4 linked regions of the Homo sapiens genome follow. The protein of the gene in region 3 interacts with the protein of the main gene of each other region in a pairwise test. Each region holds a gene or a part of one and is shown on either strand. Other genes may lie near its edges.

The links.
Region 1: the proteins of RBPMS (region 3) and TUSC2 interact in binary tests that used the Homo sapiens proteins (3 or more experiments, as listed by UniProt).
Region 2: the proteins of RBPMS (region 3) and KRTAP15-1 interact in binary tests that used the Homo sapiens proteins (3 or more experiments, as listed by UniProt).
Region 4: the proteins of RBPMS (region 3) and CNNM3 interact in binary tests that used the Homo sapiens proteins (3 or more experiments, as listed by UniProt).

Annotation. Positions count from the first base shown.
Region 1 is NC_000003.12:50,324,431-50,333,489, forward strand, and holds TUSC2 (tumor suppressor candidate 2), read right to left. Parts: upstream 3,794-9,059; 5' UTR 3,670-3,793; coding exon 3,524-3,669; intron 2,048-3,523; coding exon 1,927-2,047; intron 1,757-1,926; coding exon 1,691-1,756; 3' UTR 479-1,690; downstream 1-478. Other genes in the region: RASSF1 (ras association domain-containing protein 1), read right to left, coding at 6,151-6,297, 6,904-7,019, 7,129-7,426, 7,620-7,724. UniProt on the Homo sapiens protein: May function as a tumor suppressor, inhibiting colony formation, causing G1 arrest and ultimately inducing apoptosis in homozygous 3p21.3 120-kb region-deficient cells.
Region 2 is NC_000021.9:30,436,057-30,442,273, forward strand, and holds KRTAP15-1 (keratin-associated protein 15-1), read left to right. Parts: upstream 1-4,218; 5' UTR 4,219-4,271; coding exon 4,272-4,685; 3' UTR 4,686-4,813; downstream 4,814-6,217. UniProt on the Homo sapiens protein: In the hair cortex, hair keratin intermediate filaments are embedded in an interfilamentous matrix, consisting of hair keratin-associated proteins (KRTAP), which are essential for the formation of a rigid and resistant hair shaft through their extensive disulfide bond cross-linking with abundant cysteine residues of hair keratins.
Region 3 is NC_000008.11:30,498,991-30,507,302, forward strand, and holds part of RBPMS (RNA-binding protein with multiple splicing), read left to right. Parts: intron 1-1,542; exon of another isoform or gene 1,543-1,720; intron 1,721-2,285; exon of another isoform or gene 2,286-2,528; coding exon of another isoform or gene 2,529-2,588; intron 2,589-5,189; exon of another isoform or gene 5,190-5,295; coding exon 5,296-5,446; intron 5,447-8,312.
Region 4 is NC_000002.12:96,824,956-96,833,267, reverse strand, and holds part of CNNM3 (metal transporter CNNM3 isoform 1 precursor), read right to left. Parts: intron 8,211-8,312; coding exon 8,067-8,210; intron 6,436-8,066; coding exon 6,286-6,435; intron 5,538-6,285; coding exon 5,368-5,537; intron 5,170-5,367; coding exon 5,073-5,169; intron 4,702-5,072; coding exon 4,568-4,701; intron 4,273-4,567; coding exon 4,134-4,272; coding exon of another isoform or gene 3,976-4,133; exon of another isoform or gene 1,300-3,975; coding exon of another isoform or gene 1,250-1,299; exon of another isoform or gene 717-1,249; coding exon 652-716; 3' UTR 1-651. UniProt on the Homo sapiens protein: Probable metal transporter.

The sequences.
Region 1 (9,059 bases), on a different chromosome or scaffold from region 3:
CCTGGCAGTAGGCCAAAGGCGTGGGGACACCTATCTGGCTGCTGTCCATTAAAGCTGGGCCTTTGAGGTCCATGGGGGTCAGGCCATGACCCCACTTAGGATCAGCTGGCGATGCTACAGCTAAGACAGATATTCCAGAACTATCTTGGGTCACACTCTCTCACCTTAGATCAGGCAGGTGGGGCCAATCCTTAGTGAAGTATCCCAGGGCCTTCTGATTCCAAGGGTCACCACCACATGGATCACAACAGATAAATGAGTGCCCTCCCACCCTGCAGGGGGCCTGCAGTGAGGTCTGTGTGAACACACAGCCACCTGCTGGCCACAGTTGGGATGGCCACAGGCTGGGCTCAGACTTACTCTTGGGCTTTGCTGGTCATAGGGGGCCTGCCAGAGTCCTGTGCCAGGCCTACCTATTGAACCCAGGTGGTAGTCTAGACACTGGGTGTCAGAGCCCCCACAGGATGCCACTCTCATGTGCAGGATCTACAAATCATTTTATTGAAATTGAACAAATAACACAACAGTCTTCCTAAGCTAGGGGCCATCCTCCCCAAGCCATTTCCCACATTATAGAAGCACAGAGCTTGCACAGTACTTAAAAAAAAAGTCACCTCTATATAGAAATCAGACTCTGCCACGACATCATCATGGACTATTTACAAACCTTCACATTATAAGTATTCCTTTTATGGTTTTTCCCTCCTTTCTTTCCCTACCCAGGGGTTCTAGTGCTTTCCCTTGACTGATCCTGAAGGGGTGGGGGTTACTGTAAGGGAGGGGGTGGTAGGCTACTCATAACTACTGGCACCAGCCTTAGGGTGTTGTCCCTTACCACAAGGTGGTGAACAGTCCCCTCCCAATTGGAGGGGTGGAGGATTTGGTGCAAAGCCATGGAGATTAGACAGAATAGGTGGGTTGGAGTAACTCCCCATAGGCACAAGCATCCGCAGCCTGTCCTGACCCCAGCCTGCACTCTCTCAACTCCTCAACTGGGGGTTCGGGGTTGGGGGGCAACAGTTAGTTGCAGTAGGGGGATCAGCCCAGCCCTGGGTAGAGGGAGAAGCCCCCACCCAGTCCCCACTCCTATCAATAGCCAGCAAACTGTCCATCCATCTGAAGGCGGGAACAAATGGCAGGTAGGTCGGAAGAATCAGGCTGGCACTGCCCCCAGCCTCTGTCCAACACAGGAGGAATCGAGGTAGCAAACGGCTGAAATGCTCTGACTAGGGGTTAAAAGGGAAGTGAAGGAAAGGAAGTTCCTACTTGTATACAGTGCCCACAGCCTAGGGGCTGGAAGAAAGCATACCTTGCTTGTAAAGTGCTGTAGCCTCTAGCAGGGCTAGGCCCCAGGCAAACTTGGAAGAAAGCAGACCAGGCAAGGAACCAGGTAACGGGCATTCCTGACTGGTATATGCCCTGCTGTGCTGCTTGCAGGGGTGGCTTGGGAGAGTGGGGTGCTAACTCTGCCATTAGCCTTCACCACCCACCAACCACCTCTTGTCCACACACAAACCAACACCCAACCAATACTGTGGGACCGACCCGCTCACAGCTGAAGGTTATGGGCCAACAGAGTTTATTCAGGGTTGTGGCCCCAGCCTGGGCTCCTCAATGGAAGCCACACCTTGATTGAGCCTGGGAGTTTCTTGCCGGGGCAGGGGGTGCTTCTGTCTGCCACCTCCCAGGGTCACACCTCATAGAGGATCACAGGGAAATCCACGTGGATGCGGGGGTGATCCAGCTTCACGATGCCCTGCCATGGAAACAGAGGCTAGTAAGGGTCAGCTCAGGGCCTCTACTTCAGGAAGCTTCCTTGTTCCTCCCAGATCCCCCCGCAAAAGCCCCCACCATGACAACAGATCCCATCTGGGTCCACCTCCACACGCTTAGTGTAGGCTCTGTGACCGCTGCCCAGCCCCTCACCTGAGGAATCAGATTCTTATGCACTCGCCTCAGCTTGGCCCGCTTCTGCCCGTTCTTGGTGACGATTGTCTCCTCATAGAACTCGTGAGCCAGATCCCCATCCTCATCATAGAACATAGAGCTGTGTAGAGGGAGAAGGAAACAGGCTGGGCTGGAGCCCCACACCTGGGCATGGCAAATGTCACAGGTCACGGGGAAGTCTGTGGTCTTCCCAACCCCAAGTGGGAAGAAAAGAGGATAATATGCCTGGAGAATCCTTTTTTTAAAAAAAATTTTTCGAGACAGAATCTCACTCTGTTGCCCAGGCTGGAGGTGCAGTGGCGCGATCTCAGCTTGCTGCAACCTCTGCCTCCTGGGTTCAAGCAATTCTCCTGCCTCAGCCTCCCAAGTAGCTGGGACTACAGACATGCACCACCACACCCTGCTAATTTTTTGTATTTTAGTAGAGACGGGGTTTTGCCATGTTGCTCTGGCTGGTCTCGAACTCCTGAACTCAGGCAATCCACTCGTCTTCATCTCCCAAAGTGTTAGGATTACAGGCGTGAGCCACGGTGCCTGGCCTGCCTGGAGAATCCTTTGCCTGGGGTTTGGGGTCTACTAGAAGAAAGTGGGAAGTGAGGTGATGGGTGGGCAGTGCTACTATGTCAGACCCCCAAGAAGAGAGCCCACACCAGAGCACACCATCCAGGCAGCCACCAAGGCCAGTTCTCATCCTTGATTTGTTCAGCAAGGGCAGCCATTCTAATATCAGGACTTTGCCTTCACCCAGGACTTCTAGAGTGGGCAGGGTGGTGGCCTGGGCATGTTGGTCTCACTCCAGAAGATGCTGCTGGCCCAGTGTCAAAGACTGAAATAGCAGAAGCCTAAGCTAGGAAGAAGCACAAAGGAATGAAGGCTGCGTCTCCCCTGACCCCACACCCCAGGTGGCTGGTGAATTGCCACTGTTGGGTCTTCCTGGTGTCTACAGCCAAATCTCTAGCACAGGGAGCGCCCATCTCCAGGAGCCCACTAGAGCCAAGCCAATCTGGTACTCTTGTGCGGGCCTCTGGGAGACTGGGCTGGGGGTTGGGTGGGTAGGTCAGCGCTCTGGATCTGGAGAACATAACTGGGTGAGGGTCTTTTTTCCTCAGCCTCACCCCCAATACTGAGGCCTATCCCTGCTTTCCCAGCCACTACGCTCAAAGGTTCAGCCCCACTACTGTCAGGAAAAGCAGCCTAAACAGAGGGTTATTATCCCCTTGGAATAACTGGGGGGGAAAGGGAGGCTAGGACCCTTCAGTATGCAGGCTGAGCCGGAAGGGATGAAAGGAAGAGATCTTATGGAGGTCTTATGGAGGCCCTAGCTTAGCTTTACCGTGCGGAAGGTCCGACCAGTGACAAGCCTCAGGCCCACTCTTCCCTAGGGAGACTTTCAGAGTGGCCAGGCCGCCAGGAGACCACTGCCCGGCTTTCTCCACCCCCAGCTCCAATGAGGCTCAAAATATGGGGGTCGTCCTGGCTTGGCTGTAGTGGGGTACAGCGGTGGAAGTTCCCCCGTGGCGCGGGACGCCTGGCCGCCCGCCTGTTCCCCCCGCCAGGGTGGAACCCATGCCCTTACCCGCGGCGCGTGAATACGAAGGGGGGCACAGCTCGGCCCCGAGGCCGCACCAAAGCTTGCTCAGCTCCTGCTGCCTCTGAGCCGCCGCCTCCGGCCGCCGAGGCGAAGGGCCACAGGCCCCGAGCTTTGGACCCGCTGGCGCCCATGTCAGGGCCGCCGGCGCATGGCGGGCCCCGTGGCCGCTCTGCTCACACCGCAGTCCGCACTACCATAACCTGCCCCAGCCGCTGATCGCAGGTGCCGCCGCCGCCGCCTTCCGCAGGCTCGGCTGTCTCCACGGAAACCTCACTTCCGCTTCCGCACGCTGCCACCTCTGATTGGCTGTTGCTCAAGTCGTGGGGGCGGGACCAATGGGCGCCCTTAGATGCTGGGCATCCCAGCATGCGTTGCGAGATCCCAGGTCCCAGCAAGCGCGATCTGACCAGCTGGGACAGCTCCCACCGAGGAAAGTGGTGGCCGTGAGTCCTCCCGGTCTTTTGGGTGTATTTGGCGGCTCTGACGTCCCCCAACACCTGAGTTCAGGCCTAGCAGGACTTCGCAAGCACCAATCCTCAAACCTGCACTTCAGGGCCTAAGGCCAGACCGCCGGGTGCCCATCTGGCTTCTATTTTCACAGCTGTATTTTTGCGATTGCCACGCTTATGTGAACTAACCAAGTTGAAAGAAAATTAAGGAACTGGCCAGATTCACATAGTTACATTCAGTTCTGAAGAACTTCGAATTCAGTGTTTTCAAACCCAGCAGAGTCCATGCTTAATGAAAGCAAGAATTGTTAACAGCTATACCCTCGGTATCACGAGCAGTGTCTGGTCCACGGTGGCAGCTCTGTATTTGGTGAAGGAGTTATGCCACACCTTCTCCCAGAGCGTGGTGTGTGTGTGTTGAAGGGATGGTTTTGTTTTTTTTTTTTTTTGAGATGGAGTTTCACTCTTGTCGCCCAGGATAATGTGCAGTGGCACGATCTCGGCTCACTGCAGCCTCTGCCTCCAGGGTTCAAGCGATTCTCCTGCCTCAGCCTCCCGAGTACTTGGGATTACAGGCATCTGCCACCATGCCGGCTAATTTTTTTGTATTTCTAGTAGAGACGGGGTTTCACCATGTTGGTCAGGCAGTCTTGAACTCCGGACCTCAGGTGATCCACCCGCCTTGGCCTCCCAAAGTGCTGGGATTACAGGCCTGAGCCACTGCGCCCGGCCGTTTTTTTTTTTTTTGAGTTGGAGTCTTGCTCTATCGGAGTGCAGTGGTGTGATCTCCACTCACTGCAACCTCTGCCTGCCGGGTTCAAGCGATTCTCCTGCCTCAGCCTTCTGAGTAGCTGGGACTACAAGCGCCCACCACCACGCCCAGCTAAATTTTTTTTGTATTTTTGGTAGAGATGGGGTTTCGCCATGCTGGCCAGGCTGGCCTCGAACTCCTGGCCTCAAGTGATCTGCCCACCTAGCCCAACCAAAGTGTTGGGATTACAGGTGTGAGCCACTATGCCCAGCCAGTTTCCCTAAGTTCTAACTGCAGTCCATTTTTGTCTCCACCACAACCTGAGCCCCAGGGAGCTGAGTGATGACCAAGTATGTATGCATACTACATCTTCACAAATTGGTCCATGGTGACTTTGCAAGACACCTGGGAGCCTGTCCATCACCCTTGGCAACTTCTGGCACCATGAGGGGCAACTGCAGCTCTGCGCCTATAATAATAAAGAGTCCAGGCTGGGCAGGGTGGCTCACACCTGTAATCCCAACACTTTGGGAGGCCAAGTTGGGAGGATCCTGGGCAACACAGAGAGACTCATGTCTCTACAAAAACTTTATATGTATAAAAGATTCCAACAGCAGGAGGATCTTGAAATCTTTATTGAGCCAATTCTCTCAGGCCCCAGGCCCTGATGATGACTGTCACCCCAACCCCTTTCCCCACAGGAGGCATTCAGCTGAGGCCACCACACATTACATACATTCACGCACTTCATAAAAAACACCTGAGGGAGAGACCCTGGCTTTGATTAGCAAATAAGGTATGAACCTGGGCCAGTGCCCACATTCACACAGACCCTGGCCCAGGGACATCCTCCTCATATGAAGCATTAAGGCACATGCTGTACTGTGAGCCAGCACTCCCTGACCTCAGGGTGTGTGAGGAGTTGGCACTGTAGAGAGAAACCAAGACTCTTCCTCAATGCCTGCCTTATTCTGAGCACCCACCCTTAGCTCTGATAAGGATATCCTGAGACCACATTCAAGATCCAAAACCTTTCCTCATAGATGAGGGCCGTCACCCCTGCAAACATGACCCTGTTCTGTTTGCAGGGTCTCCAAGATTTTCACTTCTGAGACAAAAATTGAGGAGACTTCTGTCTGCACCACTCCTGCTGCAGGCCTGGAGCAGCTTCTCAGGGCAGCCCTGGCCCACTAAGGCCCAGTAATGAGGGCAGAGGGGTGCAGAGCCATACCTGGCTACACCCACAGGTGGACACAGGGAGCAAGCTACTTCGCTGTTCTCTGGGCTCATTCCCCCAGCACAGGAGGGCCTCCATGCACACTCATTCCACAGGCCCCACTGGCCCTGTCACACTCACACGGCACGCACTTGGCGCTGCCTGCTGTCTGCCTTCCACCTGGGGGTACAAGAGGTCACCCAAGGGGGCAGGCGTGCAGGGCCTCTTGGATCTTCTGGCGGCAATAGGAGTACTTCTGCAGGATCTGGCGGAGGTGCTCCTCCTCCTCCCGCTGCAGGATACGTAGGAAGTTATGTAGTTCAGGCATGCTGAAGGCGTCCCACTGCAAGGGGCAAAAGGGGAGTGTACAGGCTGCAGAAGGGATGGCCAAGCCAGCAGACCCTCCCCAGAGAAGACTAGCACCTCATGTTCACACAAGCTAGGACTGGGCTTTCTGATGTCAGGCTCTTGGCTGAATGATCTCTGGTAGGATCCCTGACAGCAGTTTGTATGGAAGATGGGCCCTACAAAACGGTCACCTTACTGAGACAACCAAGTCAGATGTTCCCCAATTACCTGTGGACAGGTCAGGCATATTCTGAGTCTAATTTCACTCCACAGGCCTAATACCTTGGAGCCAGAAAGCTTCCAGGTAAAAAGTCTGAAGGGGGCCTCCTCATGTCATTAGATGGACTCCTGCATCTCCAGAAGATTTTCCACACCAGGAAAGATCAAAGCACCAAGGCAATTCTTCCTGGCTTCTTGGGACAACCCTAGGCTTTGGCATGAGTGGTCTGGAAGCCTTTGCTTTAGTTACAATGCCTATACACTCCTGGAACTGTTTTGCAGGGCTTGTCTTCCAGCACAATTCCTCCTCCAAGCCTTACTGTAGCTACAGCCCATCAGTCCTGTCTAGTGACAACCAAGAAACTAAGAACTATGTACTCACGTTCACCTCCCCAGAGTCATTTTCCTTCAGGACAAAGCTCAGGGCCTTGTCACTGGGCCCTGCCAGGAGCCGCAGCCGCAGGGGCTGCTCATCATCCAACAGCTTCCGCAAGTACACTGTGAAGGGGAAGTAATGATCAGAGACAGGGCCAGCTGCTCAGCCCCTGCATGCTCAGGTGCATGCGTATATACCCTCACATAGGGCAGGGTGGGGTGGGAAGCCCACCTTGGCCGTGACGCTCAGCGCGCTCAAAGAGTGCAAACTTGCGGGGGTCATCCACCACCAAGAACTTTCGCAGCAGGGCCTCAATGACTTCACGTGCCCTTGTGCGTGACAGCACATGCAGGTGCTTGACAGCATCCTTGGGCAGGTAAAAGGAAGTGCGGCGCCTGACACTTGTGCCCCGTCCTGGGCCCCGCCGGGCATCCTGCAAGGAGGGTGGCTTCTTGCTGGAGGGCACAGAGACAGGGCGCACCAGCTTCAGCTGAACCTTGATGAAGCCTGTGTAAGAACCGTCCTTGTTCTAAAGAAATAGAGAAACCAAACCTTGATAATAGGTTCCAGGTGAGATGTCAGTCTACTTGGGGCTAGGCTGGGTATGCACAAATTACTGCTTGCGCCCACCCAAGATAACCTCAGTTGTGACCCTCTGAGTATCAGGCACATAGCTGGGTACCTGCTCCTCCCCACGCCCCCTTCCTGAGCAGTCAACTCACCAAGCTCATGAAGAGGTTGCTGTTGATCTGGGCATTGTACTCCTTGATCTTCTGCTCAATCTCAGCTTGAGAAAGGTCAGGTGTCTCCCACTCCACAGGCTCGTCCTGCAAGATGGGCCAGCATGGACACAGGGCCCTTGAGGAACCCAGGGCTTCTCTGAAAAATGGCCTCTGGGGCAGTCTTTGGAAACTGACTGCCTTTGGCCCCCTGTCCCTGATGTACATATACATAGCTGGTGCCCACCCTGAACCCACCACTGCTCCTGGTTTTGCATGCTCTGGGTGGATAAGGGAAAGACAGAATCATTTGGCTTCTCTCTGCTGCCTGCCTAGGGCCTCAGCACTGAATGTAGCCTTAAGGATACCACAGAAGCAGGGGCAACTGAAGGCACATGGCCAGGGGCCAGGAACAGCTGAGGGACTCTGAAGAGGGACTCTCATTTAAAGTAAAATCAGGCTGGGTGTGGTGGCTCACATCTGCAATCCCAGCATTTTGGGAGGCTAAGGTAGGAGGATCACTTGATCCTCAGGAGTTTGAGACCAGCTTGGGCAACATAGCAAGACCTCATCTCTACTAAAAAAAGAAAAAAAAAAATTAGCCAGGTGTGGTGGTGTGCCTGTAGTCCCAACTGTTCAGGAGGCTGAGGTGGGAGGATCGTTTGAGCCCGGGAGATTGCAGCTACAGTAAGCTATTATCGTGTCACTGCACTCCAGCCTGGGGAACTGAGTGAGACCCTGCTTCAAAACACAAAAAACAAAAACAGGCTGGGCACGTTGGCTCACGCCTGTAATTCTAGCACTTTGGGAGGCCGAGGCGGGTGGATCACCTGAGGTCAGGAGTTTGAGACCAGCCTGACCAACATGGAGAAACCCCGTCTCTACTAAAAATACAAAATTAGCCAGGCGTGGTGGCACATGCCTGTAATCCCAGCTACTTAGGAGGCTGAGGCAGGAGAATTGCTCAAACTCGGGAGGTGGAGGTTGCAGTGAACTGAGATCGTGCCATCGCACTCCAGCCTGGGCAACAAGAGCGAAACTCGGTCTCAAAAAAAAAAAAAATCAGTAAAATCACACCTCAATTGCACATTCTGATCACAGCACCCTAGTTGAGTTGGAGTGAGGGTTTGTCCTGGAGAAGGCAGCCCATTTTTCTCCTCTGCCCCGGCACGGGGCCATGACCCACTGCAGGGTGAGAGGAGTGGAGAGTGGTGCACATCAGTAGTCCAGCCACCAGTGGACAGAGTAGTACTTGGAGCCAGTTCTCCATGTCTCACACATAGTGAGAAAAATCACTGTGACATGATGTTTAACCTTGACCCAAGCTGCATAAAAGGCAGCTTTAGGCCAGGCTCCAATCTGCCAGAGGTACACAGGCAGCTTCCTGGTGGGTTTCTGCACCTGCCTGTGCTGTCTGGAGATTTGGCCCAAAGATTTTTTTTT
Region 2 (6,217 bases), on a different chromosome or scaffold from region 3:
CAGAAAAACCTAGCCAGATATTTAGTAGTTTTTAAGACAAAAAGTAAGCAAAGAATATTAAAGCAGATATGCACATGTAATGTTACCCAGTTTTATTTAAACTTACGTTCTTCACTTTGTAAAATTTAAAGCAACTACTCTAGGGGAAATAACTAGGAGATACAGTAAGAGAAGTGTGCTTTGATATTGCATATCTATATAATTATAAATAAGCAGTTTTGACATCTTGCTCCAGTGAATATTTTCTAGTTACTGGAATTCAGATTATTCCTCATCTATCATGGGTAACAGTAGAAATCAAATTCGTAGGCAAATGATAGGATAGGAGAGCAATAGACGGTATGGATATATGGATATGGACACAGTAGGTATTGTGTTTAAGTTTCTGGTTCCTCAAACATAATTACTAAAAGTCATATTCACAGGCTGGATGGTAAGAAGCAGACTGGCAGCTACTAGAAGAATAGAAGGTTGGGTGGTAAAAGTTGGGTCTATAATTTAGGGATGTGAAAGCAATGGGACAATAACCCATGGATTGGAATACACTGGATACAAAGCCCAGGGATGGAGAGCCACAGCCAAAAGATTGAAAGCCCCTGGATCCAAAGCCCAGAGATCCAGAGTAAGTCATCTGGCAGGGCCTGCAGAGTATAGAGGTTCTGGGGCAATAGCAGGAGATCTGGCAGGTGCTGGACACTACACAGGATGTCTGGCACCTGCGGAGCTCCCAGCAGGTCTCCTGACAGCCCCTGTAGAGAGAAGAGCCCAGCTGGCAGGTGCTGGGAGAGCAGAGGTCAGTGCTGTAGACCAGTTTGCTGGGGTAGGAAGAGCCACAAGAGAAGCCTGGGTAGCGCAGTTATGCCCCACAGGGCGGGAGGAGAAGTTTCCAGAGTAGCAGTTGTAGGAGAGAGTTGACTTACAATGACAAGGTTGTGACTTTGAATGTCACTTCTTGGACCTGGGGACTTATATGCCCTTAACATTGGGTGTGTCATCCACATGGCACATAAAATAGGTTACCTGCCAACTTTAAATGAATTAAAAAGATAATCATAGTCAGACATATGTATTTATTGTGATTTTACAGCTAGGAAGTGCAGTAATGTTTGTGCCTTGGGATTCAGTTAATAGTGTTGACTCTTTAAAGCTATTACTCATCTTCCCTTACCAAAGGTCACTCTTCAGATAACTCAGAGAATCGCTTTAGAGGTAGACAGTGTCTGGGCTGAGGGAAGCTGCCTTAATTAAAAATAATTGATACCCATTTCACAATCTGTCTCAAAATTGTTGCCATCTGGTGCACAAAGTTGCCAGCTAACCAATCTATTCATAGTCATTTCTTTCAAACAAAAACATACATTCACTGTCACCGCAAAGTAGCAAGCTAACTTAACGAAGAATGTCATCAGAAAGCAGCAATGGTGATATGCAAGATATAATGTCTTTTTAAAAATCAAACTTCAACTGGAACAGCTTTAATGAAATATTAACTGAGATTCCCTTATTTTCTGTGCTCCTGTTTAAAACTGTATGCAGACTATTAGGAGCCAATCTTAGCTTTTCTTTCCTTGGGTGTGTGTTTACTGTTGAGTGAATTAAAAATAATAAATTGCTTTATGTATTTTGGAATGGTCGAGATTATTCATCTAAGATGCTTAAAAGGCATTAAAAATAAAAACAGATCATGTGTCAAAGATGCCTAGTGTATTTCTACCTCTAATCAGAGTCAGTGTTTCCCACTAAAAGAATTCCCCAGAATCTGGAAAAGATTCCTGTTTTAAAGAAAGTTTATAAAGTAACTGCTTTGAGATGGTGAGACAAAGGCAGCATCTTAGGAAGATTCTTCCTTTGCCTCAAAAATAACATACATGACTTTGACGTAAATTATTTTCAGGTGTTTCTGACAGGTATTACAACACTTCTAAAATAATGGTCATATTTTCTCTTGTTCTGTGACTTGTATTTCACCTTGATGTAATGGTGTAATGAGACTGATATCTTGAGGAAGAGGAGAGATTGAGATTTATCTTGCTGTGGTTTCTGTGTTGTTTGATTTGCTCATTTTTAGAAAAAAGTTTCCATTCCACTTCTGAATGAAAGTAGTTGAATGCAAAAAAATCCATACTTTGAGAAAAGAATGTGCGACATTACTTAATATCTGATCCCTCAGAGTATTCTTCTACTGAAATTGCTTATATAGGAATGGATGACATTAAAACAAGAAAGCAACTTCAATTTAGGCGGGCTAAATATTTGTGTGGCTATTTTGATATTCAATATTTTATTGACAAACACAACAGGAAGATTTGGAATCTACTAGAATGCTTTTTGGCTATTAATAATTGAGAAGCCTAATAAATAAGAATTGTTTATTCCAGAAACACAGAACAAACTATGTTACTTAATAAATGAAACATGATTGGAGATCAATTTGTCTCCTCAAAAGTTTAGACTTATAAAGTCTACAATTTGGAAGGAAGTTGAGCAATTATCTCCAGCCTCCTGTCAGATTGGAATTCCACTTACAACATCCTAATTAGATTTTCCCAGGGCCCTCAGTATGGAAATATCATTAATTGCAAGAGCAACTCATTTTAGATTTTTAGCTGAATCTTCCCCTAAAACTTTTACCTAGTAATCCTGATTCTTCATAGAAGGGAGTCTCAGTTCACTTCCATTGTAGAATACATCAGTTCTGAAGATGGATGTCTTAAGAGGTTTGCCCATTCCCACAGGTTAAGGCATTTCCTGCATCCGTGCCATATATCTATTTACAGTTTGCTCTGATGAACTTTCTGAGCGAATCCAGAAAAATCCTCATTACTCTAGTACTCTAGGCAGAATATATATGTCAGCTGATACATCAGAGGTCACAAAGGCATTCACTCTCAATTACACATTATCATCATGTATCCTTCCCACCCCTTTATTTCAATTTATAAAGTCATTTGTTACTATGAATTCTTTACATATTTTATCTTTCTGTGAATACTACATGGGATAGACATTTCCCTCATTTCTTGCTTTTCTTTTCCCTCTCTGGTAAAAATGTCACCCTCTGAGAGAAAAGAAAGGAAAAGATTAACGATTTACATTTTACTTATAGTGCTTATTATTTTCCTCTCAGTAACATCAACATGACCAAAAATTACTTATACCTTATGGGGATAAACGGTTTTTTATAATCAAACTTATTGATGACTTCTATGAAGAAGCAAATCAACCTTTGAGTAAGGGATTTCTTTAGTAGTTTTACAATGTAAACTTCAAAGCACTTGTTCAAAAATTTCACCCTTCATTCTTAACTCTTCATGTGCACAAGAGTGACTTAGCTACTTGTGTTATAAGAAATCTAAACTTAAATATGTTAGGCACTCATTTAGCATGTCTACCAAATAAGGATTGTTATTGGGTTATTTCTTCTAATGGTTCAAAGAATTGAAAGAAGGAATAGATATTGAAATTTTTTTTCTGTTCTCAATTGAATTTATAAAATTGGAGCAAGATCAAAGTCCCTTCCAGATTACAAGGTATTTTTCAGATCTTTACAAATACCAGAACTCTCAGTGTCTTAGCCGTTTGATCCAATTTCTAGAAGGACAGGATGAATGAAGCATCAAGTTTTTTTCTTTGTTTTTTTGTTTCTTTGTTTGTTTGTTTGTTTTGGAGATGGAATCTTGCTCTGTCTCCCAGGCTGGAGTGCAGTGGTACGATCTCGGCTCACTGCAAACTCCGCCTCCCGGGTTCAAGCAATTCTCCTGCCTCAGCCTCCTGAGTAGCTGGGATTACAGCCGCCCACCACCATGCCCGGCTAATTTTTGTATTTTTAGTAGAGACGGAGTTTCACCATGTTGGTCAGGCTGGTCTGGAACTCCTGACCTCGTGATATGCCTGCCTCAGCCTCCCAAAGTGCTGGAATTACAAGTGTGAGCCTCCGCGCCCGACCCTTTGAAGCATCAGTCTTATAGGTACAATTATGGTGGTTTTCATTCTACCTAAGCAAGATGAATGAGAAATGGCATTTTTGTTTCATGAACAATTGCTTTGAAAAACTAATGAAATTCTTTCATGTAGAAGTCTACGTTCATAAATAAAATTCTTTGAGTGTTAATATATTTCATTTTGACTGCAGCCTAATTAAGTGTTCTCATTAGAATGGGCACTTGTGACTACACCTATTGCTAGAGTATGTCAGTGTCCAGTATAGAAGGTAACATTCACACACACACGCTCCTCACTGCAAATCACCTGAGCTCAGAACTCCTGTTAACATGTCTTACAACTGCAGCTCTGGAAACTTCTCCTCCTGCTGTTTTGGAAGTTACCTGAGGTATCCAGTTTCCACTTATAATTTGTTCTACCCCAGCAATGCCATCTATTCTCCAAATACCTGCCAACTGGGCTCCTCTCTCTACAATGGCTGTCAGGAGACCTACTGTGAGCCCACCAGCTGCCAGACATCCTGCACTTTGGCCAGATCCTATCAGACATCCTGTTACTGCCCAAAGAATTCCATCTTCTGCAGTCCCCGCCAGACTAACTACATAAGATCCCTTGGATGTGGAAACACTGGCCTTGGATCTCTTGGTTGTGGAAGCACTGGCTTCCAATCTCTGGACTGTGGGTCCAGCTTCTACCACCCAACTACCTTTTCATCCAGGAATTTCCAGGCAACTTGTTACTAACCAGCCTTTGGGTCTCGCCTTTTTGGATCATCTTACTGAATATTCTCCATTCTCTCATGATTATTTCTGTACTCTATGGAACTGCAACACTCAGCCTGTCCAATATCTGTGATTGTTGACCATCTACATCAGTAGGACTCAGCATCCTAGCCCTCTTGGAAGTATATGATTGAACACGGACAAATTAATCTTGACCTAGGACCCTTCCTAAATCTGACAGGAGATATATCTTGAATTTCAATTTTTGTGCCAATGCTCAGGATCATTTCTGTTATCATCTTTCTAAAATCCTTCTCTCATTATTTTCCCAGAACTCTTCCACTCAAATATATTTCAAATAGTTACAATATTTTAAATAAGCTTATTTCTTTGGCATGAATTCTGGCATTCCATTTTATTTTGTTAATACAATACACTTAGGCTGGGCATGATGGCTCACACCTGTAATCCCAGCACTTTGGGAGACTGAGGCTGGCGGATCACTTTAGGTCAAGAGTTTGAGGCCATCCTGGCCAACACAGTGAAAACCCATTTCTACTAAAAATACAAAAATTAGCAAGGCCTGGTGTGCACCTATAATCCCAGCTACTCAGGAGGCTGAGGCAGGCGAATCACTTGAATCTGAGAGACGGAGGTTGTAGTCAGCTGAGATCATGCCACTACACTCCAGCCTGGGCAACAAAGTGGGACTCTGTGTCAAAAAATAAATAAATAAATAAGTAAAAATGATACATTTAGTGAATTCATCCCATATCTTCAACTGTCTTCCTTAGGTACACTTTTTGTTTGTTTCATATGTTTTATTGATATTTTGTTGAATAGAAAACAAAGTGCAAAGAAAATTTAAATATATAACCTATCACATGTTTTAAGAGATTTAAATCCCCTCATAAGTGCATTTTTTATATATTTGCTTCAGAAAATTTTGTTTTAGTCTTTCATTGAAAAAAAATTTATTGAGGTCCTATTATATACCAAGCATTACGCTGAACAAAGACACAAATTCTCTGCTTCAGGAAGTTCCCACAAATACAATTATAACTTATATGGCAAATGGAATAATGGGGTGAAGACAAGATTCAGTGGGAACACAAAGAAGAACTTCAAAAACACTCAGAGAAAATAATATAAACCCATTATTGAAAATAGAGTAAATAAGTTACACTTAATTTTAGAATAACAAATCTTACTGATCTATTGTGTCCATTGCAGTCCCTTGAAAAGCAGCTGCCAAATGGGATTAAACATAAAAAAGATTTATTGGTGAAAATGCCAGTGATAGATAATGGGGAGGTAGTTGGAGAGGTCTGGGAGAGCCATACTACTGTGGAGTATGTCTAGCCTCAGTGAAGGACAGAGGGAACTAAGTTTGGTCTAGAAGAAACTTCTTTAAGAAACTCCCCATCGGGCGTGGTGGCTCATGCCTGTGATCCCAGCGCTTTGGGAGGCCGAGGCGGGTGGATCGCGAGGTCAGGAGATCGAGACCACCCTGGCTAACACGGTGAAACCCCGTCTCTACTAAAAATACAAAA
Region 3 (8,312 bases):
AGCAAAATAAATAATGATAGTAATGAATTATAAAGCATAGAGCTAAATATAAGTCTGTAAGTCATTACTGATGTAAATAATTAACAGGGCAGAAGGGAGAGCTTTTCCATGGAGTAGAAAGCTGATACACTGTATATAAAAGGAGCAATGAAGGCAATCCCAGCTACTCGGGAGGCTGAGGCAGGAGAATTGCTTAAACACAGGAGGTGGAGGTTGCAGTAAGCCGCTGAGATCATGCCGCTGCACTGTAGCCTGAGTGACAGAGCAAGACTCCGTCTGGTGGCAGCAGGGAGGAGCAATGAGATTACTAAAGCACCATTTGGCAACTACAATAGTAACAGTTGCTTCAGGTAATAATTATTAATAGGTGTTAAAACTAGTAGATTTTTTTGAAAAACAACATATTTATATAGTCTGGAAATATCTGTCTATAAGAAACTACTTAAAAAGGGAAAACAGCATCTTTACAATAGAGAAACTTGGCAAATGATCAAAGCTAATATCACTCGTAATGGGACAAAAGTGACATCATGTGCCTCTTGATATTATGCACTGTGCAGGACATCCATCTCTGATCTTCCTGCCAAAAAATGCGTAACCTGAATCTAAACCAAAAAAAAAAAATTAGATAAACCCAAATCGAGGGCTACTCTACAAAATAAATAGCTTGTAGTTTTCAAAAATATCAAGCTCATGAAAGGTAAGGACTGAAGAACTCTTTCAGGAGACTAAAGTGATGACAACTAAGTGCTGTGTGATTCTGGATTAGATCTTGGATCAGGAAAACAAAGAGATGTCCTTGTTTTTAGGAAATCAAACTGAAGTAAAGGGTAAAAGAATAGCATGCTTGCTACTTACTTTTAATCAGTTCAGGGGAAACTGTGTGTGTGTGTGTGTGTGTGTGTGTGTGTGTGTGTTTGATAAATGTGAAATGCTAACATCTAAGAAATCTGTGCAAAGGGTATATAGGAATTATACTATGTCTGCAATTTTTCTGTAAGTCTGAAATTATTTCAGAATAAAGTTCTTTGTTAAAAGTAACTAGTTTTTAAAAACATAGCTGGTTGAATGCTGTGTCCCAGTAGGAAATCCCTTATTCCACCTCTCTCCTTTTGTTTTTAATTCTGTATTGGATTTTATAAATTATACATAGTTGTAAAAATTTCAAATGATGCAAAATTGTACAAAAGTCTGTGCCCTCTCTCACCCCTACCACTAAGTTGTCTGCTATTATTAACTGGTTGGTTGTCTCATTCTAAACCTTTCTGGACTTACACAGATAGAGAAGTATACATGCAGATGTATATACAGTCTCCTCTACCCCCATACTACCAAACATTGTTGAGTATCTTTTTTTTTTTTTTTTCAGGCTAATCTAGCCATGGACATCTTTCTCAATATGTATATATAGCTCTGCTTTGTTTCTAAGCATTTTTTTTCTAAATGAGTCATTCCATTGTCCCTAAAACTCATTGTCAAGGACTGATGGACTAACTTTAGCGCAGAACCATTTGTAACAACACTGGGAGCCTGAAGCTAACAGAATTGAAGTACTCTGTTTATTGTACCACATAACCAAGACTGTATCAGGTATGAGGGTGCTCTGAAGACCTCAGTGACAGGAATTTGGAGACTTTTTCTCTAGTGAGAGGCTGTTACGGTGACTCAGCTTTGGTCAACACCATTTTCTGTGTCTCTATATAGGCTCAAGGTTGAAATCCTTATAAGAGAAAACAGGTTTTGTCACTTTAGGCTGCAGCTGCCCCTTAAATAGGCAGCTGTGGTCAGAGGAATAAGGGCACAGAACACAGACATTGGCCCCTGAGTACCCTTCCCAAAGAAGAAGGCTTAGAGGGCAGTAGCCATCTCATCCCAGCTTCTCTTCCCAGGGCTGCTCTAATGGTTTCATATCTGATCTGTTCTAGTCCCTTCATTGAGTCTGTCTTCCCTACCACCCCTAGAGTTACCGCCAATCACTGTGATTCTCAAATGTGGTCCCTACACAAACAGCATCAGCATTACCCTGAACTTGTTAAAAATGCAAATTTTCAGATTCCATCTCAGAGCTACTGAACCAGAAACTCTAGCAAATCCTCCAAGTTGATGCTGCTAACATTTGAGGGTCACAGACCTACTACATAAAGCTGATCATATTATCCCCCCCATTTTTAAAACCTAATGGCTTAGCTGAGCACACACTCCAAAGTCCTCAGTCATGGCATAAGAGGTCCTTTGTGATCTCTCCCCAGTCTGCTTGTTCAGCCACCCCACCCCTGACCCCTCCCACCCCAACACCCTTTCTGCATCCTGTTACAGAGAAATTTGCTGAGCCCTTTCCTGAACTGCACCTGGTGAACTTCTACTCTTCATCACTTCCTCTGGTGCCTTCCCTGGCTCCCTGGCATGAAACTGCCCTGGTATACTTTTAAGTATACTGGACGAACAAGAATATGTTGTTTCTCAGCAGTGTCCTTTTAAAGATCTCCCAGAATTTGCCCTGAGTAGGGAATTCAGCCTCTGTAGATTATATGGAACCTGCATTTGTAGAGACTGTTGGCTGTCCAGTAGCCAGTCAGATTGGGGTGCTTGTAAGTAACTGTTTATATTCAAATTAATATACTAATATTCAGAAACTGTCCTTTCTGGTCCATGTAATAAATAGGACACCATTTACATTTGGAAGAGAAAGGTTCTCTGTTCATTGTGAGAAGAACGGTGAATTATGAGCAAGAGAGGAAAAGGTTGCTTTTGAAAGACACAGGTTCACCCTTTCACTTGGCAGTAATCTTATCCTGACAGCATTTAATGTGGAGTAATTGTAGCCAGAGAAGAATCTTAGTAGGCTTTAATTAAAAACACAAGGAATTTTTTTCTCTTGTCTTCTTCCTATCTGCCTCTTTTTCTTTTTTCCCTCTTCGTTTCTGTGTTCTCCCTTTTCCTGCCCCTCTTTTTTCTCCTCTTCATCATCCCTTAACATTTAAAATGTTTTTGGCTTGGCTAATCCCTATGGATGGAAACTTAGCTGCGCAGGATATTGATTACCAAATATGGTATTGCTGCTAAAGATGTTAGAGGAATGTGGCTTGTATTCTAAGCCTCCGGCCTCTGAATAAGCTGCCAAACAAATTAGGTCATTTTAACTTCTGAGCTTTTTTTTTTTTTTTTTAAATAAGGATGCTGGAACTTTGATTTGGAACATGATGTTGATGTTATTTTAGTTCAAATTGGGGGGCGGGTATGAAGAAGGGGGCAGGGAGTAGGGGAGACTTAGTTCAGCATGTTTTAGGACTCAAGCCGCCAGCCCAGGTTGTGTAAGAGGCAAACACATGATGTGGAGCTTCAGTTGATTCTGGAACACCAGTGAAAGAGCTGAGGCATAGAATTCACATGTGCAGCCTCATTTTCTGAGGCTAGATGCTCTAGACCACAACTAGGTCCCAGGATACTCTTCACATCATCCCCAGTGGCCTGGGCCACAGGACTCAGGTTAATGTGAACTCAGGTTTAGGAAAGTTGCTTCTTCACAGGAAGGTTGGTCAAGTTTAGTGCCGGGGAGGACGTCCTGAAGTTGATGGCAAGTTGCTACTATGTGTGTCTGATGGAGTGTGGTGCAAATGAGGAAGTCCTTTTACAGCATACCTGTACGTAACACCCAGGGACTGTGCTTGCCTCCCAGCAGAGACCACAGTTCTTAGGTCCATTCTTGGAAATATTAATTCTGTTGTAATATTAGCTTTGTTAGGGTGGAAGTTGGTCCACCTCAGTGAGGTCCTTTGTGACCTCACCCCAGCCTGCTTCAGAATGCAGCTTTGCTTTTTGTTTTTGTTTTTCCTTATATACTTTTTCTTCAAAATAATACTGAGGTTTCCCAAATTTAAAAAACAAAAATACAACACAATATCAGTTAAAGAAAATGTTCTTATGTTTCACAGAACAGGCACTATCTGTTCGCTTTTTGGTGTTGATTAGGTATGCACAAGGGTATTCTCCACATCCCTTTTGCTACTGCCCTCAGTTGGTTTCTTCTCAGAATGAGTGAGTCATGCTCATGAAGTTCCACCCACTCCAAGACTTCTGGGTCAGGGCTCTGTGGCTTTTGTTAGGCCTCCCTAAGGACCTCTCTTTCCTTCCCCTTCCCCCCTTGTTTCCTGTTAATGCCATTACCATCCAGCCACAGGCTCTTCCTTGTATACTTGAAGCTGAGCCTGTGAAGTTCAGAGTTGTTCATCCTGGTCTCTAGAGTAAGAGAGTCTTGTTTTTGTGGATATTTCTTTTTTTGAGACAGAGTCTAGCTCTGTCACCCAGGCTGGAGTGCAATGGCGCGATCTTGGCTCACTGTACCCTCTGCCTCATGGGCTCAAGCAATTCTGTCTCAGCATTCCAAGTAACTAACTGGGATTACAGGTGCATGCCGCCACGCCCAGCTAATTTTTTTTTTTTTGTATTTTAGTAGAGATGGGGTTTCACCATGTTGCCCAGGCTGGTGTTGAACTCCCGAGCTCAGGCAATCCACTCGCCTCGGCCTCCCAAAGTGCTAGGATGACAGGCATGAGCCACAACGCCCTGCCTGCTCTTATTTTTTTTCAAGCTCATTAGGAAGAATGGTGGCGAGGGGGCGGGGGATGCTTTGGAGCCCTCAGGCCCATGTGTGTACATTCAGAACACTAAATGGCAACTGTGTTCTTAGGAGACTCGTTTTCAGGACTCCAGTCCCTTTCCAGACCACACCATGAAAACATGGGAACTGAGTGGGTCCCATGGGTGCACATTTAAAATACACTCTCTTGGGATATCTTTTTGACACGTAGGGTCCAGAATTCATGGTATTGGATGCTTAATAATGAAGACATTCTTGAATGGTGGAAAGGTTCCAAATAGACTTGTCTTGCGCTAGTGTCTTTCATAGTGTCTGTGATTTGTTTTACTGAATATAATCTATTTTAGGTAAACTGCAGGAATAGGGTCAGAGGTAACTGAAATTACTATATATTAAAGTGTGTAACTGTGCTAGGAATTTGCTGGTTCAAATTTTAAACTGAAAAGTTTTTGTCTAAAAAGAAAAGGAATAGTTGAAAATCTGTGTAACTACATTTTTTAACTAAACTAAATCCCACTGACTTTCGGGACACTTTGTGTTGTCATTTTTCATGTAACCTGTGTAAGTAGTAAGAATGAGAGTGGTTGCTGACCTTTTTTCCTGATAGACCAGGGTTTACTGGTGTGTTTATTTTGTCACCATTCCGGTTTGACTCAAAGGAAATGAAAACATCTTCCATTTGTTCTCTGTTTCCAAAGGGCATCCGCTTCGATCCTGAAATTCCGCAAACACTACGACTAGAGTTTGCTAAGGCAAACACGAAGATGGCCAAGAACAAACTCGTAGGGACTCCAAACCCCAGTACTCCTCTGCCCAACACTGTACCTCAGTTCATTGCCAGAGAGCCATGTAAGTCGATCTACTTTTCATTCAAAAGTAATAATAACTAAGAACTGTTCATGTGCTGCATGTGAGGTTACACCATGGGACATGGAGCTGGCTGAGTCTTATTTTCCATTTCTGTGAAGAGGTTGCCTAGGCGTTCTTGGTGTCAGAATTCCAAATACAGCAATCTTGTTTGTGATTGGCTTCCCAAAAGATGGTTCAGCTTGAATAGAACCATAACTTCAGAATATCATTTGATGTACTACAGATTTCCTTAATGTTATATTGACCATCATGAGTATGCCCCTAGTTGCCTTGGGTATAAACCCTTCATTCCCCCCTGCTCGGACACGAGAGCTGGTTCTCAGCATTTACTTTAATCCATTTGTTGAAGGACATCAGCTCGGTGGCTTTGGAAAAATAGGATATTAAAAGAGAAAGAAGCAGATCTTGGGAATTTGGTTCTATTCAGTTTAGCCATAACTCTAGGGGGAAAAGTAAACACATACAAAGAATGTATATATTGGAACTGTCAGTCTAGCAAACTAATACCAGTAAAACTTTAAGGAAATTTGGGGCTTTCTTTTCCAACTTAATTGGATAAGGACACTGGCTAATTGCTCAAGACGTCTTCTACCCCACATTAATAAGCTTATTTCATTATATGTCCAGACTACCATTTCTGCCTTTCCCTGAATAACTTTAAAAGATTGAATTTGCTTTCTCAAGCTCAGTCAGTGGCAGAAGTGGGGCATGAGACAGGCCTTAACTTCTCCTTTCATTGCAGAGCCATATGTGATTTAATATGGCAGGGCATTCAAGGAAACCCAAGTGACTTGGATTCCAAGTTATTTGGAATATTTCTGTCCTGTTGTTTTTGGTCTGCTTTCTAAACCACACGGTTGTGATCTTCTTCCTTCGATAGTACATTTTAACTCTTCTTATTGAAATTGAAGGACACATGGATTCCTTGCTCCCCCCATGTCATGTGCATGTCAGATTTAATCAGGTTATCTTTGGAAGTCACAGCCATTCTGTAGTTCAGTCACTCTTGGTACTCATCAGTAGAAACTAACAGATAAGTCTCCCTGAATGTTCTAAAATAAATGTTTCTATGAATCCAGAAAGTCATAATAGATTAAAAAAAATTATTTTGTTCTTTCACCTTCTTTGTCCCAGGGAAACTAGAAACCTTTGCTTATTTGGGAAGGAAATCTAAACAAAAGTTACATCTTACAGTGTACTTGTAGTACAGGAGGATATAGGAACATCTTTTACATAATTCTTCATCCTTATAGTATCTAGCTTAATACTTTGTATATTGTATATATTTAATATTTATTATAGTGAGTGGATAAATTGATACTGAAATTGGGCTACTTGTAGAACTGTAGATGCATTTGTATGCCTCTTCTCTCTGAAATTTCTTCTCTCTTGATCAAGGCATCAAAAAAGAGTATTTTTAGGATGCCTGATTTAGTAAAAATAACCTAAAGTAATTCTTTGCCTTTTTAGTGAATTTGCCAGCCTCAGATCTCAGAGTTCTTTGAAAAGATTAATTCAGGCAGGAAATGTAATGCTGGTGATACTTAACTTTACCTTTTCAATTCTTTGCTGAATGCTCTTTTTAACAGGACCACGAAACTTTTTCTGAATTTCCTACAACAGCCCTGTGAAATAGGTAGCCAGGAAGGTTGTAGCCAGATTACGACATGCTATACAAAAGCAACAAATAGGAACAAACTGGACATTCACAAGTCCCTGAAGTTACAGGAGAGCATAGAAACTGAGCTTAGAACTCTTTTCTGGCAAGCTCTGCTCACCTCCCTTCCCAGCATACAGAACAGTGCAAAAATGGCCAGATAGTTTCCATGACAGGGTAAAAACTTGCCCAGCTGTTCACAGCAACACAAATTTGAAGTTTAAAAAAAAAAAAAAAAAAAAAATCCAAGCAGCCAGCAGTGTATTCTTGAGGAAAATAAAAGTCAGCATGATTTATCTTAATATAGCTCATTTTTACGACACAGCATCTTGAGGAGAGCAAGTCCACTATGGCTCAGGTCAACCTTATTATCCATTGCCATTCCCTCTGGGAACTGGGAACTTGACCGTCACATACAACTTGCTTACCTGGAAGCATACGGCAAGACTAAGAACACTGTGTTGGGTCTACACGGACAAACCCACTTGCATTGTACTCAGAATTGGTACTCAAGGTGGTCAGTTTAACTACTTATCAGGTGTAGAATATAATGGAATTGGAGAATTTGAGGATTGGAAAGGCCCTGAAGGCTAGTCTTTGTTGTAGGCCATAGAGGTTTTTTATAAATGTTTCTTTTGGTTACTGTTTTTATATGGTAGTGGCTGAAAAGCACTCGTTGCCATCACTAAAGGAAGAATGTTCTGTGGTTTGATTATACAACACACATACACTTGAACTCTCAATTCTCCATAAATATATGAACTTAATGAACTTAAACGAGCACCCAATGTGCTAGACCCTGGAGAAGAAGGAAATTGGTTGCTGCCTTAAAAGAGCTGTCGTTCCGGGGAGGTGATGGTGGTCAAAGTTGTCAGAAAAACTTGGCCCCATATGAAGGACATATAAGAGATTCTGCAGCTTAGTTGAGATTGACCCCGAATCAGACTGCCGTATTTGCTGAGCACCTGCTCTATTTGTGCCAGGGATGGAGAGTGAGAAAACCAGGTGTTGCAACTTAGCTGGGTAGATGGTGGCCTGCTGTGGAGAACTTTGGCTTCAGGCTAGAAGATGTCACTGAGAATCCTGTCGATAATTCTGCCAATTATTGACAAGCTTTGTGACCTTTAAGAGAAAAAAATTTTTTTCACTTGGTTGTGCTCCTATTCTCTCAGCTGTAAAATAGGAATA
Region 4 (8,312 bases), on a different chromosome or scaffold from region 3:
GCTCTCAGAATCAGAAGAGCAGCCTCCAGGGAGGGAGCAGGGCTACAGGGACAGCCTACGGGCAGTGGAGCTTCTGGTTTGGCACATGGGAAAGGCTGGGGCGCATGCGCTGAAACATGACACCATCAGGGAAGCCAGAAAGGACAACATGGACAAGGCCATCGATCTGAACCCCCAGCCAAAATGGGTGCTCTCGGCTTGCTCAAAAAGTGCTGCCAGCAGCGATAGGTTGGCAAATTAAAAGCAAACAAATAGAGGTCACGGCCACACAAAGGCAGTAACTGCACTCACAAGGTGGCTCAGCCCAAAGAGGTCTGAATCTGAATATGCCGCACTGTCCCTGCCCCGGGGGAGAAGGGGAAGGCTGGGCCCTGGGAACTAGAGATGATGGCATTCCTTTCATTCCTTCCTGAGGCGGGCCTGGAGGGCTGTGCCCTGGTGACTCCTGTCTCCTAAAGGAGGGCAGGGCCGGCTGAAGGATCCAGGCATTGATGTCTAGTTCTGAGGACACCCAGGACCCGCAACTACAAGGGCCATCTAAAACGTGGCCTGGAGGGGATGGGGGCAGGCGGGCACAAAACTTCTGCTCAGCTCACTCCAGCTCCCCACGTGCTCATCTGTTCCCCAGATCTGGGGCTGCCTAGTGAGCCGTTAAACGCCTGGGTTCCGCCCAGGGCTGCCTTCCACCGGGACGCCGGGCCTGCTGTGGCTGGACCCTACAGGAGACAAGGGAAGGAGAATTAACATCAAAGCTGGTAAAGTATCCTGTCAAAACCAAGTGCCAAATCCTCTGTGGGACAGGAAGGGGCAGCTAAGACAGGTGCTTCGGGATGCCTTGGGAAGTATCAGAGCAGAAACAGGAGCGACTGGTTAGCAGATGGTCAGCCAACAGATGCCTTCCCTGGGAGACGGGGAAGCTGGGGCTGTGGATTTCTGGCCCCGAGGGTCCCAGGTCATTATGCTGAACAAGAGGCACCTTCCCGGGACGATACAGCACCCTGTGCTGGAAGGAAGCACCATTTTCCACAGTGGAGGAGTCTCATGACCCCTCCTGTCTTCCAGAAGGATGGAAGGGAGCGCCCACCCCACACCCCTGGAGAAAAATGCCCCCCAGCCTGGGGAGCCATGGGCTCTGCTCCTCCCTCAGCTGAAGGGCCAGGAAAGGGAAGTGAAGGGGCAGGGAGAGGGAAGATATTTACCTTACGTGTGCTCTGAAAACAAAAAACGCGCACTAGTCCACAGTCATTTATCAACTGCAGTTTCCAACTGTGCCAAAGAGGGAAAGGTCTACTGGGAAGGCTAAAGAGAGCAGAGAGAGAAAGAAGAGGAGAAGCTATTGAGCAGAAATGGTTGTGCCTCTTGGCTCCGGGCAGCACCATGGAGAGGGCCGGTGCCCCGGGCAGGGGAAGCTGAGGGAGAGCTGGCAGCTGCAGTGCTGGTGCTGCGCTGCCCCACAGCCTGCGGCTCAGGATGGCAGAGAAAGCCAGGAGCACAGCATGGAGGGCTGCACAGTGTGGGGACTGCCTTTCCCTCGGCAATACAGTTCCATGAAGAACTGACGTGGAGGACCTACCCAGGATTTGAAATAGTAGGCCAGGGGTCAGACAACTTTTTCTGTAAAGGACCAATATTTTTAGTTTTTGTAGGTCATATAGTCTCTGTCACAGCTACTCAGCTCCACTGCTGTAACTCAAAGGCAGCCATAGCAATCTACAAACAGATGTGTGGGTTCTCATAAAACTTCATTCTCAAAAATAGGCTGCTAGCCAGATGTGGCCCTTGCACCACTATTTGCCAACCCCTGCTGTAGGCAATTTAAAATTATTGTGTCTTCCAAGTCTCAAAAAAGGCACTTCTCTGCTGGGCGTCTAGTGCCAAGGTCTCCAGAAACTGGTTCTCATCTGCATGATTTAAGCAGTGCCCCACCAAAATCTCCAGGTGTGCAGCGGCCCTACGCTCCTCCGGACAGTGAAGTGCCAAGCTCACGGGACAAAATGCAGGACAACCCGAGTTCAGGCAAGAAACAGAAAGACAGCAGGCCAGCCTCACTGAAGCAACTGTCAGGTTGTACTTAAGTGAAAATAACCAACATTGTGTCTAGAGAATAATCCATTACAAAGAGGAAATGACCCACAAAGCCACTATCAACTATTCTCTTACAGGACGGCCCAGTGAAGATTATTTAAAAATCTCCGGGTGTGCAGTGATGGGAAGAGCATTATTTTGGGATTAGGTCTGTATCTTCACTACAACACGTGCAGTCTGAGTAGCAGTGAGCCAGAAAAAGGCTCACATGTGGGAGAACCAAAACCAAAAGACTCCCATTTTTAAAACCTTGGCCTCTGAGACCCCAGTGTAATGTGACAATGTGAACTTCTGTAGAAGGGGCACCCCATACAATAAGAAACCATCACAGTGGGTAAGCACAGAAGCCTCAACAACCCTAAAAGGTGCGGCACTAGCTACTCGTCCAGCTACTTTGGAGGCTGAGGCAGGAGGATCACTTGAGCCCAGAGTATGAAGCCAGCCTGGGCACCATGGCAAGACCTTATCTCTTAAAAAAAAGTGCAGCACCATCCTTAGAGAGATCTCTTTAGGAAGAGATGCAACCCATCCCCAGATCCAAGACTTAAGCAGCACGACCTCACCCGCTGCCTTTTTGCCAACACCCAGATCTGGAGCCCACAGGGGCTGAAGCATCCACATGGCCCAGGGTGGGATTTCTGTCCCTTGCACCTGCATGTGACCTCACAATTCAGAAAGGACTATTAGAAAAACATGTTTGTGCTCTCGAGTGTGGGTCTGAGCAGCCACAGTGGCTCCACGGGAGGCCTACAGGAAGCAGGTCAGAGTCCCTGGGCCTTCTCTCTGGCTCTCATTCCTGCCCTGTAGAACAGGCAGAACAGCTAGCAGCCCTCTGGCCACGGGGAGGTTAGCAGAGTTAGACATGGAAGCTCCTAGCACAGTGCCTGGCAGAGGAAGTGCTGATAACAGCTTGTCTTCCTCGTGGTGGGGCAGGTGGGGGTGGGAGGAGGCAAGCCTGCAGCTCCCTCCACAGCCCCACCAGCTCTTCCAGGAATCTCAAGTTCAGGCATATCTCTGACCCCAACCTTAGGAACGCAATCAGAATTAAAGTATCTTCTTGAAAAACAAGAACAAGAAACCCTTCACCACTCCTACCCACAGCCTACACTTCAGACTCTTTCACCTCCCTCCTTGCAGTGTGGGGATGGGGTTCCATATCCCACAACCTTTAGTTCGATTTGCAAAATTTCTTCCAACACAATCTTCCTGCTCGCAGTGGAGCACTGGATGGGCCACGCTTAAATATTAGTATGAACTGACCAAACTCTTCACAAATGCCCTTCTAGTGTCTAGGATGGTGTCTGCCAGCCACACACCCTCTAAGCCAGGGCCACTGCTGACTCAAAGTGACCTAAACTTAATCTTAAATGGCCAAAAGAGTGTCTGAACTAAAACTTATTCCCACTTCCCAACAAATCTCTGATTAAGTCAATCCATTCTAAGACGTCCTTGAGAGAAATACCGACTTACTATACTCTACTCTAAATACCAGTTAGTCTATAGTTTGGTGTCATCCATGCTATTAAAGACAGCAAGAAGTTCAAGTTGAATAATGAATTAAAAAAAAAAAAAGCAAGAAGGGGGTTGGGCACAGTGGTTCATGCCTGTAATCCCAGCACTTTGGGAAGGTGAGGCAGGCGGATCATCTGAGGTCAGGAGTTCAAGACCAGCCTGGCCAACATGGTGAAACCCCATCTCTACTAAAAATACAAAAATTGGCCAGGCGTGGTCGTGGGCGCCTGTATTCCCAGCTACTCAGGAGTCTGAGACAGGAGAACTGCTTGAACCCAGGAGCCGGAGGTTGCAGTGAGCCGAGATCACACCATTGTACTCCAGCCTGGGCAACAGAGCAACAGAGTAAGACTCCATCTCAAAAAAAAAAAAAATTATTTATATATAGATATATATATATAAAGAAGGGAAAAGGATGGGGAGAAAAGAGAGAAAAAAGACAGAGGGTGGGGGGGCGGCGAGAGTGCAAGTCTGTGTGTGTGAGCTCACGGCCCTCAGGTCCAGACACCATGCACGATGTACCACTTGGCACTCACCTGCCGCTGTGGTGGTCTTCTCACCAAGGAGCCTGGTCTGGCTGCCTGGAATAACCTGCAGGTCGGTGTTCTCAGGGGACTGTGGCAGGTTCTGGGCTCGGGTAGCCAGGAGTGCATTGAGGTACTGCAGTCGCGTAACCTGGAGGATGACAGCGTTACTGGGACCCAATTGGTGAAGCGAGATGCAGAAGGTAGGCAGGAAAGGTGACACCGTGCCCGAAGAGGACAGAGGCACAACTTTAAGCTAGTTAAGGGCAGAGAAGAGCAACTGAGTCAAGTGTTTTTAAGACCTTGCTTGGAAACTGGGTGCAAAGGTCTGTGTCCCTCAGGATGAGTGGAAGGCCTTGTTCCGGGCAGTCTCAGACCAGCTGGTCTAGCCCCCGGTGACACAAAGTCGGCTAAAGCCAGCACCCACAAGCAGCCCAGGCAGTCACCTTGATGAGCTGCAGATCAGAGAGCGCCCTCACGGTGTAGTCGGGACAATACGCAGATGAATGCGTGCCGTCACCTGGGTCGGGCTGCAGGTCATGGCGGATGGGCTGGAGCGAGGACACCGGGGACTGGTGAACTATCAAAGGAACAATCAGTGATGGCAGGAGCCATGCTGGCAGCTGGGAGCCTCCTCCCCTGGTGGGGACAACTGTACAGTTTCGAAGACCCACCCCACCAATCACTCTGGAGAGGCAATGTGCATGGGAAGCTGGGAGAGAAGGACAAACACAGCCGGGAGAGGTTTTGCAGGGGTGGAGTGGGCCACAAAGTTGAGCGATGAAGAATGCTGCCCTCCCTCCTGGAAGCCCAGGGGCTACACCACCTTGTGGGGTGGTGGGCTCAGGTGGAAGGAGAGGTGAGGAGGGGCACTGAGAGCCCAAGTGATGATGGGGGACAGGCTCTGCAGCCTCCACCCTGGCCCTCAGCATCAGCAGGGCCGTGGCTTACCCGAGGATGGCACAGTTAGGGCCGACACTCCATAGTACGTGAAGGCCCCATTCTCAAACTTCAGACCCTCTTTCCCGATCTCCACTTCAACCCTGCCCTGGGAGGAGTGGCAAGGAGAGAAACAGATGCGGCCAGATTACCTTTCCCGTCAGAAGACAGCGGAAGGAGAAACCCACCACCTCAATTGTTTGGGGTGGGAGGGTGCATATCCGCATGCCCCTGCTCCCCTCTTCTCCTAGACCCTTCCCTGGCCTGAGGAAGCAGGAGGGACTCCAGGCCTGGGACCCACAGCTACCTGCAGGATGAGAATGAAGTAATCCACCGGCTGGCTGCGCTGGTACAGGTAGTGGTGTGTGGCCAGCCGGTTGCTCTCGTCAAACCTCACTTCCTGGTTGACACTGGGATGCTTCAACAGGTGCAGCAGGACCTTCTCAGAGATGCGCAGCGGGCTGAATACATCCACTTCTGCACGTGGTGGAAAAAAGGGACAGTGTCCACTGGGGCCTAGTGGCCAGTGGAACCACACCCAACACTGTAGGCAATTTAAAGTTATTGTGCCCACCAGGGATCTCCCGGGTGGCCTGTGAGCAGCTGCCCCTAACACCTCAACACAAGAGAACTAGGCAGGGGCCAGGTGCGGTGGCTCACGCCTGTAATCCCAACACTTTCGGAGGCTGAGGCAGGTGGATCACCTGCAGTCAGGAGTTGGAGACCAGCCTGGCCAATATGGCAAAACCCCGCCTCTACTAAAAATACAAAAATTAGCTGGGCGTGGTGATACACGCCTGTAATCCCAGCTACTTGGGAGGCTGAGGCAGGAGAATCACTTGAACCCAGAAGGCGGAGGTTGCAGTGAGCCAACATCGTGCCACTGCACTCCAGCCTGGGTGACAGAGCGAGACCCTATCTTTAAAAAAAAAAAAAAAAAAAGAACTGGGCAGGGCACCCCACATCCGCCCAGCTGAGAGCTGAGGCCCCCTGGCTGTGGTGCACCAGGCGTGGCACTGGCCTGGCCCTGCTCTTGGTCATCTGGCAGAGAGGAGGTGTCTCTCCCATGACCCAAGATGCTGGCAGGGCTGCAGAGAACACAGAAGTCCTCAAGACGCACCCGCCTGCTAGGAGTGGGGAGCAGAGTCAGTGTCGGCCCTGGGCGGCCTCCTGACCCACAGAACGGTGAGGAGAGCAGGGGGCATGGACCACCCTCCCGCCTCACCTCGGGACAGGAAGCGCTGGGTGGCCAAGAGCAGCTGAGGCGAGATTGTTACTTTATATTCATCATCAGACACCTTGAACAAGGAGAACTCCTCCTTCCGCTTCAGAGGGGCCATCAGAGAAGCAGGCTTCCTCTTCACCACGGTGTCTCCTAAGATGGAAGAAGAGGGCGCGCTCAGGCATCAGCCACCTGTCAGTCAACACGACCACACTAAGGGGCTGCATCGCCTGCTCCTTCCTCCTGAGGCCAGGGGGTCCTCGATGGAGCAGCATCGGAACGCCAGGGACATGTCCTCAGCACCGCTCCCTCCACGGGGCCTGCTCCCACCCCAACCACACAGAGAGAGGGGTGACTATCTGCCTTGGAGCTGGCTGAAGAGAATGCTGATATGATAACAAAGCAGCTTGTATAAAATAACAAGCATCCCTGATAGGTCACTGGATGTAGACTAAAAACTTTTTTAAATTTAGGCCAGATGTAGTGATTCACACCTGTAACCCTAGCACTTTAGGAGGCTGAGGCGGGAGGATCACTTAAGGCCAGAAGTTCAACACCAGCCTAGGCAACATAGAGAGACCGTGTCTTTACAAAAAAATAAAATAATTAGACGGGTGTGGTGGCATGCGCCTGTAGTCCCAACTGCTCAGGAGGCTGAGGTGGGAGGAACACTTGAGTCTGGGAAGTTGAGGCTGCAGTAAGCCATGAATGCGCCACTGTACTCCAGCCTGGATGACAGAGCAAGACCGTCTCAAAATAAAAAAAAAAAATTAAAAAATAATAACAGCCTCTCTGGCCACTGAAAAACTTCTCACTATAAAGCATGTATTCAAGGATTACCAATGCAAATGGGCAGCAATTAACCTGGAGACCCCATGCCTATGGCAGTCTCAAGAACGGAACTAGAGATGCTATGTTTGAAAATCGACGCATGATTAAAGCGATACTTCTGGAAGCATGCAGGGCAGGCGGCCCGGCCATGACGCACAGACTCTGTACAGCCCTGCAGACCTCAGCCACCATGCTAACAGGCGGACACTTTTACCATGCAATCAAGGGCACGGGATCAGCTGCTTTGGGAAGACTTATTTCCACCCCCTCCAGTCTCTCAGGCTGGAGCGCAGTGGCGTGATCTCAACTCACTGCAACCTCTGCCTCCTAGGTTCAAGCGATTCTTCTGCCTCAGCCTCCTGAGTATGTGAGACTACAGGCACGCACCACCACGCCCAGCTAATGTTTGTATTTTTAGCAGAGATGGAGTTTCACCATATTGGCCAGGCTGGTCTCGAACTCCCGATCTCGTGATCTGCCTGCCTGGGCCTCCCAAAGAGCTGGGATTACAGGCGTGAGCCACTGCGCCCAGCCAGGAAGACTTTCTTCATGGCAAACAGTGGGTTCTTTCAGGGGACATTTCTGTAATGTACAAAAGAACCTGCAAAAACAAAAGCACCTAGGGAGACAGAAGACTGGGAAAGGCCCATGAAGGGCAGAGCTCTCTCAGTAATGGAGGAAACTAATAGGACTGCTGCTAATGGAGCCCCAGGTGAGCCCTGGGATTGCAAGGCCACCGCTGGCACAGGCAACCATGCTTGTGTGGAGGTGCAGGCGTGAGCCCTCCTGCAAGGGGGCTCTCTGCCAGCACCCATGCAGGGCTCAGAAGGGGGCCTGGCTGTGGATCTTGCTGGGTTCCAGCAGCACAGAGGCCCACTGGCCTCTGACGCAACATACGCCTGGGGAAGTGTGCAGGCCCAGCGGAGACAGAACTGCCAAGAGTCTGGACTCACGGTAGTCTTCAGACTCGTCCAGGATCTCGGACCTGATGATCTCCTCGATCACGTCCTCCAGGGTGACCAGGCCCAGGACCTCGTAGAAGGGGTCGCCTTCACCCTCGTTGTTCACCTTCTGCACGATGGCCAGGTGGGACTTCCCTGTGGGGGGAGGACACTCATGGAACAGCTTGCTGGGCCCCCCCCAGTTTGATTCATCTCCCCTGGTATAGGCCCACCAAAAGGACACGGCTAACGTTCATG